Linked DNA regions of Homo sapiens: all the other regions are reported to be linked to region 2. Evidence: microRNA targets listed by miRTarBase, many of them from high-throughput screens and not tested one by one. Region 2 holds a microRNA gene; each other region holds the end of a gene's coding sequence.
Evidence for each region. The annotated mature microRNA hsa-miR-196a-3p reads CGGCAACAAGAAACUGCCUGAG and lies in region 2 at 1,453-1,474, shown strand. An mRNA with a match to its seed (bases 2 to 7 or 8) in the 3' UTR can be bound and repressed. Matches are read on the target gene's strand: a 7mer-m8 pairs with bases 2 to 8, a 7mer-A1 pairs with bases 2 to 7 and ends in A, and an 8mer does both.

Region 1 (3,106 bases), not on the chromosome of region 2:
GATGGTGAGCCTGGGCCTGACCCTAAGAGTGGCCTGGTGGGTGCAGGTAGGAAGGTGTCAACCTGCCAAGGGCACGGCTGGGGTGGGGCAGGGGCGTGCTGTGGAGATGGGGATATTGCATCTGTTTCTAACCCACGTAGCCACTGGCCACGTGACTACGTAACTGAGGAGTGGAATTTGTAGTTTGATTTAACTGATTTAAAGACGCACTTGTGGGTGGTGGCTTCATCTGGATGGGGCCTGCTTGTGTTCACTCTCTTGGCTTGCAAGACTAGGGTCTGAGGCACACCTTGTATCCTCCTTGTAGTTGTGAGAGCCACAGGAAAAGCAAGAAGGAGAAGAAGAAAAAGAAAAAGAGGAAACACAAGAAAGAGAAGAAGAAGAAAGACAAAGAGCACAGGCGGCCAGCTGAGGCCACCTCCTCTCCCACATCTCCTGAGAGGTATGCCCTGGTCCATATCTGCCTCTTGGGGGTGGGGGCCTGGTTGACTCCTTCCGAGTGACTGACTGCCATTGGTCTCCCCAGGCCCAGGCACCACCACCATGACTCCGACTCCAACTCCCCCTGCTGTAAGAGGAGGAAGCGGGGACACAGTGGGGACAGGAGGAGCCCGTCTCGCAGGTGGCATGACAGAGGCTCTGAGGCCTGATGGCTGGACCCTGCTCACTGCTGTTGTGGGACCCTGAACCCTCCCTTCACCTTGCTTGCCTCCTGCCTCGGAAGCTCCTTGGGTGTGGGTGAAGCCCGAGGCTGCTCCTGTGGAAGTGGCTCTGGGCACCAGCCTGTGGGGCTAAAGACTTGACAGCTAGCTCTGGAGCAGCCGGCTTCCTGGAAAACCTCCAGGTTTCGCATACCAGGGATGGCCCCTGGCTTGGCCTGCGAAGGTGAACCTGCCCAGATTTATCAGTAGAGGCTGGACTCCCTCTGTGTCCTGCCCATGGTTGCAGCAGCCATGGGCCTATGAGCGGTCTAACTGTGGCCAAGTATGGTGACCTCTATTTTTCTTTATATTGACTCTTTGTATTTCAATAAATATATTTTAAAAGGAAGGTATATCAAATTGGAAGGTCAGTATCAGGGGTTAATGAGATCCCACTGGAACGTCGGAGCTGGGGTCTGTCTCCCAGGAGTCTGAGACCTGGTGATTTTTTTTTTTTTTGAGTTTCACTTTTGTTGCCCAGGCCGGAGTGCAATGGTGTGATCTCAGTTCACTGCAACCTCCGCCTCGCGGGTTCAAGCGATTTTCCTGTCTCAACCTGAGTTGCTGGGATTACAGGCGCTGCCACTACGCCAGGCTAATTTTTGTTATTTCTTAGTAGAGACGAGGTCTCACCGTGTTGGCCAGGCTGGTCTTGAACTCCTGACCTCAGGTGATTCGCCCGCCTTGGCCTCCCAAAGTGCTGGGATTACAGGTGTGAGCCCCGGTGCCCATCTGATTCTTAATGTCCTGGGGGAATGTAGTCCTCCCATGTGTGCCCAGAGCCCCCACCAAAACCCAGGGAGGGCTGAGGCCCTGGAAGCAGGTGCTCAGCTGGCAATGTGGGAACCTGGGGCAGGGAGCCCTATCCCTGCGACAGGTGAGGTCAAAGACTGCAGTCTGTGGAGGCACAGCCTCAATTGGGTGTGGGGGTTGGGGAGCTCCTCCAACTGCCTGCTACCCCAACCCTCAGCTCCGCTTCTCCAGAGGCAGTGGGCTGGGTGTCCCTTCTGCCTGACCCTAAGAAGGATCAGGGCTGTTCAGGATGTGTGCGGCCACCAGGCTGCATGGCATAAAGACAGATGGCACCTGGGCTGCATCACAGTTCAATGCAGCGTTGCAGTGTTGGGATCAGAGGCATGAGCTCCCTCACCTGGCCTGTTTCTGATTTCAAGGGAAGTTATGCAGACCTTCCTCAGGGCCCTGGCCAAGGTGTAGCTTGTGGCTTTGACCTCTGCCCTCACCCTCGGGTGGCTACTGGAGTAGAGACTGTGCTGTCTTGGGTGCTGTCAAGGGGGATGAAGGTTGGGCCACCTAGCCAGGGCAGCCCTCTCTTTTGGGACTCTGCCCAACAGAAGGCAGACCTTAGACCTGCTGATGGCCCCATCCCAGAAACAGGTACCCCCAGACTGGCAGCCCCCTGCTGCATGGCATCTTGAGGAGAGGTGGGGGCTGTGCCCACTCAGGCAGGGACCATTCCCTGGTTGGCACAAAGCCCTATGTATGCTAGCAGTGGCCCTGCCCCATAGCCAGCTATACAAAGTGGGGTTCAGCAGCAGGCCGATGGAGGGAAGGACGGAGGCTGAGGTCTTCCATGGTGCCTGCTGACCCCTGCCCTGTATGGCCCAGGTCTCATTGGCTGGGCCCGACAGGACTGCAAACGAGATCAAGGTCACTGTGGGCAACCATGCTGGAAGAGCCTCTCACACAGACACAGAGAAGTGCCTGCACACTCAGGAGGGAACATGGGGAGGGTGTGGACTGAGGTGGCGGCCCTAGGCAGTCACCTGTACTTCCTAGAGTAAAGCTGGCTGATGCACCCACCATCTCCTGGGGGCAGCATGCCTGTGTGGAAGCACTGGAGAGCCGGTGAAATAGTTAAGAGATTTTATTCTAATAGCTATAATTACAGTGCTTGTTTGTCGAAATGAAAACTGAAAACAAGTATACAAAACAGTTGATTACTAATCGTGTATTGAAAGCAGTAAGAGGTTCCACGACACCAAATAGACCAGTTCTGAGGTTTCCCCAAGATAAATTTAACAGCTCCAGCTTCAGTGTTTATCAAAATACAAAAGAAAAAAGTAGAGGTTGTCTTTTTCGATGGCAAATCGGACCCTTGCAGGCTGAGGGAGAGAAAGCTACATCACACACAGAGGTGGGGTGCTCCCGAGGGGCTGTGGGTCTAGGTGGACCGCCTGCCCGGCTTGCACGCGCTCCTGCTGGTGAGGCCCCAGACATCCTGCCAAAGTGTCTGAGCGAGCACGAGTGTTGGGGACGACGGACCCACTCTGGCCACACGGCGACCGAGGGACAGATGGGGCCCTGCGTCCCATAGGCTGCCTGAAGGTGGGTAGGGCGGCCTGCGGCATAGTGGGGTGGCTGTGGGCTCCCAGCCTGGCCCCTGG
Region 2 (3,120 bases):
GTGTGTGTTTTGTGTTTGACTCATCTCCTAGAGCCTTTCTAGAACGTCTCTTGGCGGGTTTAATGTAAGTGAGAGACCATAACGTTGATTTAAATATTATCCAGGTGACCACAATAAGTCAAGGTCATAAAACAGTAATGTCAGGACGGTCTTGGTGCGCGCGAGAGGTGGATTTTATGATCTGCAAATATAATGTGGTGCTGCAGTAAAAGATGCATTTAAAGGTGACTGGAGGAGGGAAAGAGGCAGAGAGCAAGCTGCAATCTTGAGGAGCAGACGGATCTGATTGCCTGGGGTGCTGGGCTGGGCGCACCCCACTGCTGCTGGGGGTCACCCCAAGAGCCCCCCACCCATCCAAGGAAAGGAATAAACTTAACCGCTGGAGGGGCATGAGGAGCTCAGCCCCCCCAACCTCGACAGCAGCTAACAGAAACGCCAGGAGCAGCAGGAGGAGGAGGCAGCGACAAGGTAAGAGAAGCGGTTTCTTGTTCTTCTCTTGGCGGCGGAGTGGGGATGAGCGGTGTCCCCAGGTGTCCGGCGTGCAGCGGACAGAGCCTGGAGGAAGGTGTTTAGGGCATCCGTGCTTGCCGAGAACCCAGGCTTTCCTAGTGGCCGCTGGCAGCGGAGGGCAGCGACTGGGAGCTCCCTCTCCTTCCCTCCCGGGCCCATTGCCATGGGGGTTCCACAGTTAAAGGGATAAATTGATGGTTTTTGGCTTCTTTATCTTTTCGGGCACTTTGGGTCTCCTCGAAGTCGACACTCTGGTCTAGGTGTTGCTCAGTCTGGTCGTCTGTTGGTGGGGGAGGAGGAGTACAGAGGGTTGAAGCTTGAAGCTTAGGTTTTCCTGCTTTTCGCTGGTTTGGATGTGAGCCTCGTCCAGCCTCTTGTTCCCTGTGCTCCCTGGCTGTAACGTTTTGCCAGGCAAGTGGCCTGATTGGAAGTGGCTCCAGAGCACAGGGCTATGATTCAGCTACCCACATTCGCTGAGAAGCCTAAACCGAGCTGAGAGGGAGAGGATCAGAGGGAGTCTAGCAGGAGAGTGCAGGAGAGCCAGATGGACAAGACAGGGGACCCAGCTCCAGAGTGGAAGGAAGATCCAGCTTCCCCCAGGGCCAGGGCCAGATGCAGGGGAATAGCTCCACTGCGGTGCTGGGGGTGGGGCAGGTATTTGGCCGCCAGTGGTCCCATTTCACCAGATTTTTCCTGAGCAATTTGCTTAGACCAGAAACTAATGAAGGCAGTCAGACCCCTTACCCACCCAGCAACCCAAAGTCTACTCTCTAGTCCTTAGGGAGGTTGTGGGGGCGGAAAGGGGGACGGGGCTGAATTTCTTCCTTCCCCAACCCCCTTCCCTTCTCCTCCAGATAGATGCAAAGCTGAATCTCCCGCCCTGCTCGCTCAGCTGATCTGTGGCTTAGGTAGTTTCATGTTGTTGGGATTGAGTTTTGAACTCGGCAACAAGAAACTGCCTGAGTTACATCAGTCGGTTTTCGTCGAGGGCCCCAACCCACCTCTCCCACTCCTACCCTCCCCAGTGGGACTGCCCCACTGCCCCCTCCCAGATAGGGCAAAGTGGGTGCAGACCAAGGAGGACAAGCTGTGAGTGGGGTTGCAGAACAAGTCTGGAGAACCCTGCTTTATGCCGTCCTCTCAACCTATCCCAATCCCTGTGATTAAGGGAGAGGAGTCTTTCCTGCAGCTATTGTCTCCTGGGCCCAGCTGATGGAGACAGACAAAGAGGGTCCAGCCAATTCCAAGGAAATTCAGGAGTTTGAGTAAGAGGTGGCCTGGCGGGCCAGCTCAGTTGGGCAGCAGGGTGGGGCAGAATTATTAGCAGAAAGAGGAGCACAGAAAGAGAAGACGGTCTCTGGAATGGTTAGCCTCTCCCACCTACCACCTCCAGTCGACTGGGGCTCAAGATTCTCCTTAGAAAAGTGGGGTACCTGGAGGTTCCAAGAGTTGGGGAACTCTGAGCGCCAGCCCAGCCCTTTCCCCTTCCCCTTCTATAGCTCCATCTCCAGGGGAAGGACATGTTTGGGGTGTTGGTAGGTTAGAGGAAAGCCATCAAAGTCCAAGTAGAACCCCTCACACACGCACACGCACGCAACTGGGAAACATCAGGGCAAAAACCTGACTCTGGTCTCTGTTTAGTCGTCTGTGGCCTGAAGGCCTCAGTTTCTGTGGCTGTGACTGTCAGGCAGCTGCCTGTCTTTGCACTATGTGGAAACATCTGGGTGAACAGAGGCTGCCCGTGCCCACCATTGCTATGTTGGTGGAAAGGTTGTTGGCTGATGCCAGGGGGAGGAGGGGAGGAGAATGGGGTAGAGGAAAATCTGAGCAGTGTGAAACTTTGCAAAGCTTCCTCTCATCCTTTCCCCCTTGGTTCTTCAATTCTGGCCCTGGTTGCTACAGAGAAAGTTCTCAAAAGAGGTTTCTTTGCCTGCCTGCGGGCGGAGTTGGGGGGGGGGGAATAAATGGGGGAGGGGTTATGGAGACTGAGGAGATACACCCCTGTTCTCAGAGATACTGGGGAAGAGAAGCCAAAAGAAGGTCAGGTTCTTGGTTCTCTTACTTTGAAATTATTATGATTATTAAAACATTATAAACGTCTAGACAGGGAAACAAAATTATGTCCCTGTAACAAAATATATACAGAGTTCTATATTCTCACAGTCATCTGCTGGGAGGGATATATGTGACCTTGTATGAGTGTAGGGCTCTGTTTCTGTCTCCCCTAGGCTCTCTTAAATACCCTGTATGTATTTATACGCATACACATTTATTTTTCCCCTCTCTTATGCGAACATATTTGTTTTGACTCCCAAGGAAGCTGGAGGAGAAAATGGGAATAGAATTTCCTGTCTCCCTAGCTGGATTGTTGGTCTGTCTGTCCCCCATCCCTTTGTGAGAGAAAAAATTTCTTCTCTTGGAGAGAAGTATTCAAACCTCTCTATGGCTCCCAGGGAAATGGGGAAGTTTCCAGAGAGTCAGGCCAGCTGGTGGGAAGCAGGCAAGGGATTCCCCTAGTTTGGGAGCTCCTAGCAGCCTTTGAGTCTTCAGGCTGCCCCAGGCACACAGTCAGTTGGGGCAAAGCGTGTCCCAGGCAGGGACTGGGTGCTC
Region 3 (3,107 bases), not on the chromosome of region 2:
CCAGCAACTCGTATAGGTTTTTGGATAAACTTTATTGGACTCATGATTTGCCTTAAAATTTGAGGATAATTTTTTTATCTATAGGGTTTTGGACTGACAAGGAGGAACTAAAGAAACTGAGACAAAGTGAAGTGGTTTTCAAGCCACAGAAGAAATGTCAAGAATATGAAATGAGTCTGGAAAACTGGGCCAAAGCAGTGAAACGCTCCATGAATTGGTATAACAAGACATAACACTAAATGAAATGATCAAAACCATAGGTAGCTGGTTTATGTGACGTGCAGATGAGATGAAGCTCAGGGATAACCCATATGACAATGACTAAGAGGAGAAAATTTTAAATAAGCTTCATAACTTAAGAAGCATTGCTTTTAAAAAAACAAAACGGAACAAAAAACTCTTATTTTTTTCCCCTAAACCATGGTAAGGCAGCAATACCTCAAAACTTTATATCTTCTATTTTGTAGCAAATTCCAAAGGACATTAGTCATTTCCAACCACATTTTGACAGTTATGGGTCCTCTTCCTTTTTATACTGGGTCAGTGGTACATAGGAACATAATGATTTACCATCCAAGCTAATAGTTCTGGGTCAAGTACCATGCACATATTGTTCCAAAATTATGTGAAACGTATTTCTTTAATTCTTTAAGTGGGCTATTTGAAGTACATATAGCTAAAAAGAAAGAATAACTGAGAAAATGTGGAATTTTGAAACATTAATATTTTATGTTTAAAGCCATAATTTCCTAATATTATATCCAAATATGAGCTTAATATGTCCCTCTCAGATAAGCTTATGAGATAGTTAATGCTTTCCTTTACTGGTCTTAAAGACACTGCCTTAATTTTTCCTTGTTCAACCAAAATCTGAGCATTCTTTCTATGTTGAAAACACTGAAAAACTAATTTTAGTTAATGAACTAGAAAGAATATTGATTTTTAAGAAACAGAAAAATACTACTTATTTTCCTTCTCAAATAACGTTTCTTTCAAAAACTTCTGGCTGAAGTATAACATGCTGGTAGTTAACATAAATCTTGTCTTTCTCTTGTTCTTTATCTTTCTTTGTTATTTAGATGCTTGTATAAATGTCTTTTGTTTTTATTAAGTGCCTAATTGACAGAGCTTAATTTGAAGAAGTGCCCTAATTTATTGACCACTTAAGAATTGCCTTTATTGGGGTATTTTATTTGTTCCTGCGTCTTTTTGATGTTTGTTCAGTCTACTCATCCCTGTGAGTATGTGTGGGGGACAGCTGATAGAAGGGAGGAGAGTGTGTCTATGCTCAGGATTGCCCTTTAGCCACTCAGCCAGAGATCCACAGGGAGCAACAAGGACAGTTTCACATGCTTAGACTTTCTTGGAAGAAACAGTGAGGAGGAGTAAGTCGTGAGTAGTGTCAAGCTGGATGTAGAATTGTCCTAAGGCAGTTGACCCCACCTTCCAACATGTTTTCACTTTATTTGCCCCTCCCTACATTTGGGTTAGGTTCCATTTGGATTTGCAGCAATAATGACTTTATTTCTCTCTTGGTCAGGATTTGGCACATAAAATCCTTTTATTATAGAACTAGCTATTTTAGTTACATAGTAATGTAACTAATGGAGAGATTTATAGAGAATTTTGTTTTTGCTGTCATATATGTCCATTTTGGAGACAGATATGATAGAACTAGAAATTAAGTTGCATTTCTGCAAGTGCCATTTGAATGAACTTCAAGTATCTTCTTAATTATTAAATTTTCTGATGAAGGCATTGTAACAAATATATAGTATTATTAAATCTAATTAATATTTGGAAATATTAATAAATAGGTATTTTATTTACTGTAAAAAGTCAAACTTCATTATGTAGATAAATCTTATTCTTTTCATTCTTTCCCCTGTTTACATCCTTTTTACAAAGCTTAGTCACCAATTAAAGCTTTCCTATCAAAATCACATGGAAGCTGCTCTGTTGTTTTACTGTTACACATTCTGTTTCTCAGTGGGTGTAATTTTTTTTTCTTTTTCTTTTTTTGTAGAGACAGGGTCTTGCTGTGTTGCCCAGGGTAGTCTTTAATTCCTGGCCTCAAGTGATCCTCCCACCTTGGCCTCCCAAAGTGCTGGGATTGCAGCCGTGAACCACTGCACCCAGCCAATGGGTGTAATTTCATAGGAAATAATTCTTTTTGTCAGAATGTACTGAATTGTAATATTAATACCTGAAAATTTGTTAGTTCACTTCTTTTCCACGTTCTTCTTTCCCAACATATAACCACAAAATAAAGGATAAATACTTTGGGCTGTGTGCAGTGGCTCATGCCTGTAATCCCAGCACTTTGGCAGGCTGAAGTGGGCGGATCATTTGAGGTCAGGAGTCCAACCTGGTCAAACACGGTGAAACCCTGTCTCCACTAAAAATACAAAAATTAGCTGGATGTGGTGGTGCAAGCCTGTAATCCCAGCTACTCGGGAGGCTGAGGCAGGAGAATTGCTTGAATCTGGGGGGTGGAAGTTGCAGTGAGCCAAGATCATGCCACTGCACTGTAGCCTGGGCAACAGAGCGACACTGCGTCTCAAAAAAAAAAAAAAAGGATCAATACTTTTCAGATAATGTTGGAAAGTAACTTTGAATGTCCCTCATCGGAATTGAGCATCTCCTCAAGTGTCAGTGGCTATTTTTTTCTTCTGTGAATCTAAAAACTAATATTTTATTTTTAATATTTGTGGCCATTTTTAGTGATAAGACTTTAATAAATATTTTTGGACTTAACTAAAATCAGAAACATGACCACATTTGCTTTTGTGGTTGCAGAAACAGTTGATAAGATCAATTGAGCAACAAAATTGTCCTTTCTTTTTTTTTTTTTTTTTTGAGACATTGTCATGCTCTGTTGCCCAGGCTGGAGTGCAGTGGCATGATCTCGGCTCACTGCAACCTCCCTCTCCTGGGCTCAAGCAGTCCTCCTGCCTCAGCCTCCCAAGTAGCTGGGATTTCAGGTATACGTCACTACGCCCAGCTGATTTTTGTATTTTTAGTAGAGACAGGGTTTTACCATGTTGGCCAGGCTGGTCTCAAACTCCTGACCTTGTGACCCACCCACCTCGGCCTCCCAAAGTGCT
Region 4 (3,120 bases), not on the chromosome of region 2:
TTTTCTTTTCTTTCTTTCTTTCCTTTTTTTTTTTTTTTTTTTTGAGAGAGAGAATCTAGCTCTTTCACCCAGGCTGGAGTGCAGTGGCACAATCTCGGCTCACTGAAACCTCTGACTCCTGGGTTCAAGCGATTCTCCTGCCTCAGCCATCCAAGCAGCTGTGAATACAGGCACACACCACCACGCCTGGCTAATTTTTCTATTTTTAATAGAGACGTGGTTTCACCATATTGGCCAGGCTGGTCTCAAACTCCTGACCTCATGATCTGCCCACCTTGACCTCCTAAAGTGCTGGGATTACAGGTGTGAGCTACCGTGCCCTGCCAAGGATATTCTTTTCAAAAAAATTGTGTGAAACAATTGGATATCCATATACAAGAAAACAGTCAAACCACAGTTCACACCCCATACAAAATTTAACTAAATGGAGATTATGGAATTACATGTAAACTCTGAAACTATAAAACTTTTAAAAGAAAATGTAGGAGAAAATCTCCATGACCTCCAGTTAAGCAAAGAGTTCCTATATATGGCAGTATAAACATAATTCACCAAAAATAAAACTGAGAAGTCTTACTTCATAAAAATTTAAAACGTTTGCTCTATGAAAGAAAGAAACTTCAGAGACTAGGAAGAAGACTTGCAAATCACACGACTGACAAAGGACTTGTACATAGAACTCTCAAAATCCAACAATAAGAAGGCAAACAACCGAAGGAAAATTTAATGAGCAGATGATTGAACAGACACTTCACCAAAGAAAATATAGGAGTGTCAAATAGGCACAGGAAGGCACGAGTGGTTCAACACCCTTAGTCACTGGAAAATGCGAATTAAAATCTCAGGGATATGCCACAGCATACCCATAAGGAAGGCTGAAACAAAAACTGACACTACGAAGGACTGCTAATTATTTGGAGGACCTAGAATTCTCATACGTTACTTATGGAAATTAAACACGATGCAGATGCTTTGGAAACAGTTTGGCAGTGTTTTGTTTTGTTTTGTTTTGTTTTTGTTTTGTTTTGTTTTGTTTTGTTTTGTTTTTGAGACCGAGTCTCGCTATGTCCCCCTCCCCCAGGCTGGAGCGTAGTGGCACCACCTCAGCTCACTGCAACCTCCGCCTGTGGGTTTCAAGTGATTCTCCCGCATCAGCCTCCCGAGTAGCTGGGATTACAGGCCCGCACCACCATGACCAGCTAACTTTTGTATTTTAGTAGAGAGGGGAGCCTAAGTTCTCATTGCTGTTAGAATGAGATGGCTGGATCATTATTCTAAGTGTACGTATAACATGATAACAAACTATCAAACTGGACCGGGCCTGTAATCCCAGCACTTTGGGAGGCCGAGGCGGGTGGATCACCTGAGGTTAGGAGTTCAACACCAGCCAGTGCAACATGGCGAAACCCCGCCTCTATTAAAAATACAACAATTAGCTGGATGTGGTGGTGGGTGCCTGTAATCCCAGCTACTTGGGAGGCTGAGACAGGACAATCACTTGAACGCAGGAGGCGGAGGTTGCAGTGAACTGAGATCATGCCACTGCACTCCAGCCTGGGCAACAGAGCGAGACTCCATCTCAAAAAAAAAAAAAAATTAGGCACCCCTGTCAAAGTCTTGTCTACTCACTCTGGAGTGGTCCCCAGGTGATCTGATGTGCCTAGGGCAGAGACTTACTTTGAAAATTACTTCTGTGGTAGGAAAAGTCATGGCCTCTGATGCCAAACGAACCAGATTTATCCCCACTCTTCCACTCAGAGTGACCTTGAGCAAGAGAGTTAACGTCCAGTCCATAAAATTGGTGTGAGGATGAAAACCACTTTTACCTGGGAAAGCTAAAATGTCACCTTCTCCCTTCTCAGTGGTCTACTTCTTAATAGGACAAAAACAGTCAGTGTCTGTGGAGTTTGCAGGGCATGCCTGTTCTAGAAAAGTGTCTAACCACACCTGTATCTTACAGGAATATCTGTGCATCTATTGCTATAAAAATAAAATCTCTACTCCAAAAGTCATTTGATGAAGAATAACTCAATTTGTAACTGATAATGATACCTCAAGCCATTAAAGTGCCAGAAAAGAAATCTTACAAACTGAAACAAAACCTTTTAAATTATTTTCTAAAATTACATATTTTTAAAAATTTAAGACTGATTTGAATACTTAACATGCACATTTTGAAGAACACAAAATAATGTTTCCTAAGATGATTTAATATCATGGAAAGATGCTCACAACATATTCTTTTGTGAAGAATCCAGATGGAAAAAGTATATATGAGCTGTAATAGCATGTTTAGGTAGAATTCACATAAAAATCACTATTTCAACCATTCTAAAGTGTCCAATTCAATAGCATTTAGTGCACTCACAGTGTCGTGCTACCTTCATCACTATCTAGGTCCGGAACATTTTCACCATCCCAGGAGGAAACCCCATCCTGATTAGCAGTCGCTCCTCAGTCCCACCTCCCCACAGCTGCTGAAAGCCACCAATCCACTATACATCTCTTCAGATTGGCCTGTTCTGGAAATTTCATATAAAAGGACAGTACACTATGTGACCTTTTGCATCTGATGTCTTTCATTCAGTATCATGCATTCAAGGTTCATCCACAGTGTAGTGGGGATCACTGCTTCATTCCTTTTTATGGCTGTGTAATACTCCATTGTATGGATGGACCATATTTTGTTTATCCTTTCATCTGGTAATATATAGCTTGGGGTTGTTTTCATCGTTTGGCTACTGTGAATAGGGCTGCCATGAACATTCACGCACAAGCGTCTTTCTGTTTGAACACTTGTCTCAATTATTTTGAGTAGATATCTAGGATGGAATACAGGACTGTGGAACAGGGTCTTAGGGTAATTCTAGGCCTCACTTTTGATGAATCAGGGGTCATTTTAGTGGGGTCAGAGTGGGTCTCTGCAGAACTCAGCTCAGGGGCTCCACCCGCAGCCAAAGTCCGCCCTCTGCGCGCAGGACCAGCTCCGGCTTCCTGCGGGGCTCGGTGTGGTCAGGCAGGACGCGGAAGCGCAGCAGCGTGAGCCCCAGGACCACCTTCATCTCCGCCATCGCGAACGCCTGCCCGATGCAGTTCCTTGGGGAGGGAGGTGGAAACTCT

Region 1: miRTarBase lists C1orf35 as a target of hsa-miR-196a-3p. The part of its 3' UTR that is shown has no 7-base or 8-base seed match.
Region 3: the mRNA of GK5 is a reported target of hsa-miR-196a-3p. Seed matches in the 3' UTR shown: 7mer-m8 at 2,043-2,049 and 7mer-m8 at 2,877-2,883.
Region 4: miRTarBase lists CYP4F3 as a target of hsa-miR-196a-3p. Seed matches in the 3' UTR shown: 7mer-m8 at 1,558-1,564.

Annotation. Positions count from the first base shown.
Region 1 is chr1:228,098,675-228,101,780 of GRCh38, reverse strand. It overlaps C1orf35 (chromosome 1 open reading frame 35), which reads left to right. Exons shown (of 8, transcript NM_024319.4): 7 at 308-442; 8 at 527-1,050. The coding sequence ends at 650. It overlaps ARF1 (ARF GTPase 1), which reads right to left. Exons shown (of 5, transcript NM_001658.4): 5 at 2,569-3,106. Among named protein-coding and RNA genes, the nearest start is that of MIR3620, 3.0 kb to the right of the region's middle. RefSeq lists enhancers at 1-410, 1,521-1,760.
Region 2 is chr12:53,990,347-53,993,466 of GRCh38, forward strand. MIR196A2 (microRNA 196a-2) reads left to right here and starts at 1,392; the gene lies at 1,392-1,501.
Region 3 is chr3:142,162,748-142,165,854 of GRCh38, reverse strand. It overlaps GK5 (glycerol kinase 5), which reads left to right. Exons shown (of 16, transcript NM_001039547.3): 16 at 85-3,107. The coding sequence ends at 233. Among named protein-coding and RNA genes, the nearest start is that of TFDP2, 15 kb to the right of the region's middle. RefSeq lists an enhancer at 831-1,566.
Region 4 is chr19:15,659,196-15,662,315 of GRCh38, reverse strand. CYP4F3 (cytochrome P450 family 4 subfamily F member 3) reads right to left here. Exons shown (of 13, transcript NM_000896.3): 13 at 1-3,096. The coding sequence ends at 2,931. Among named protein-coding and RNA genes, the nearest start is that of CYP4F12, 12 kb to the left of the region's middle.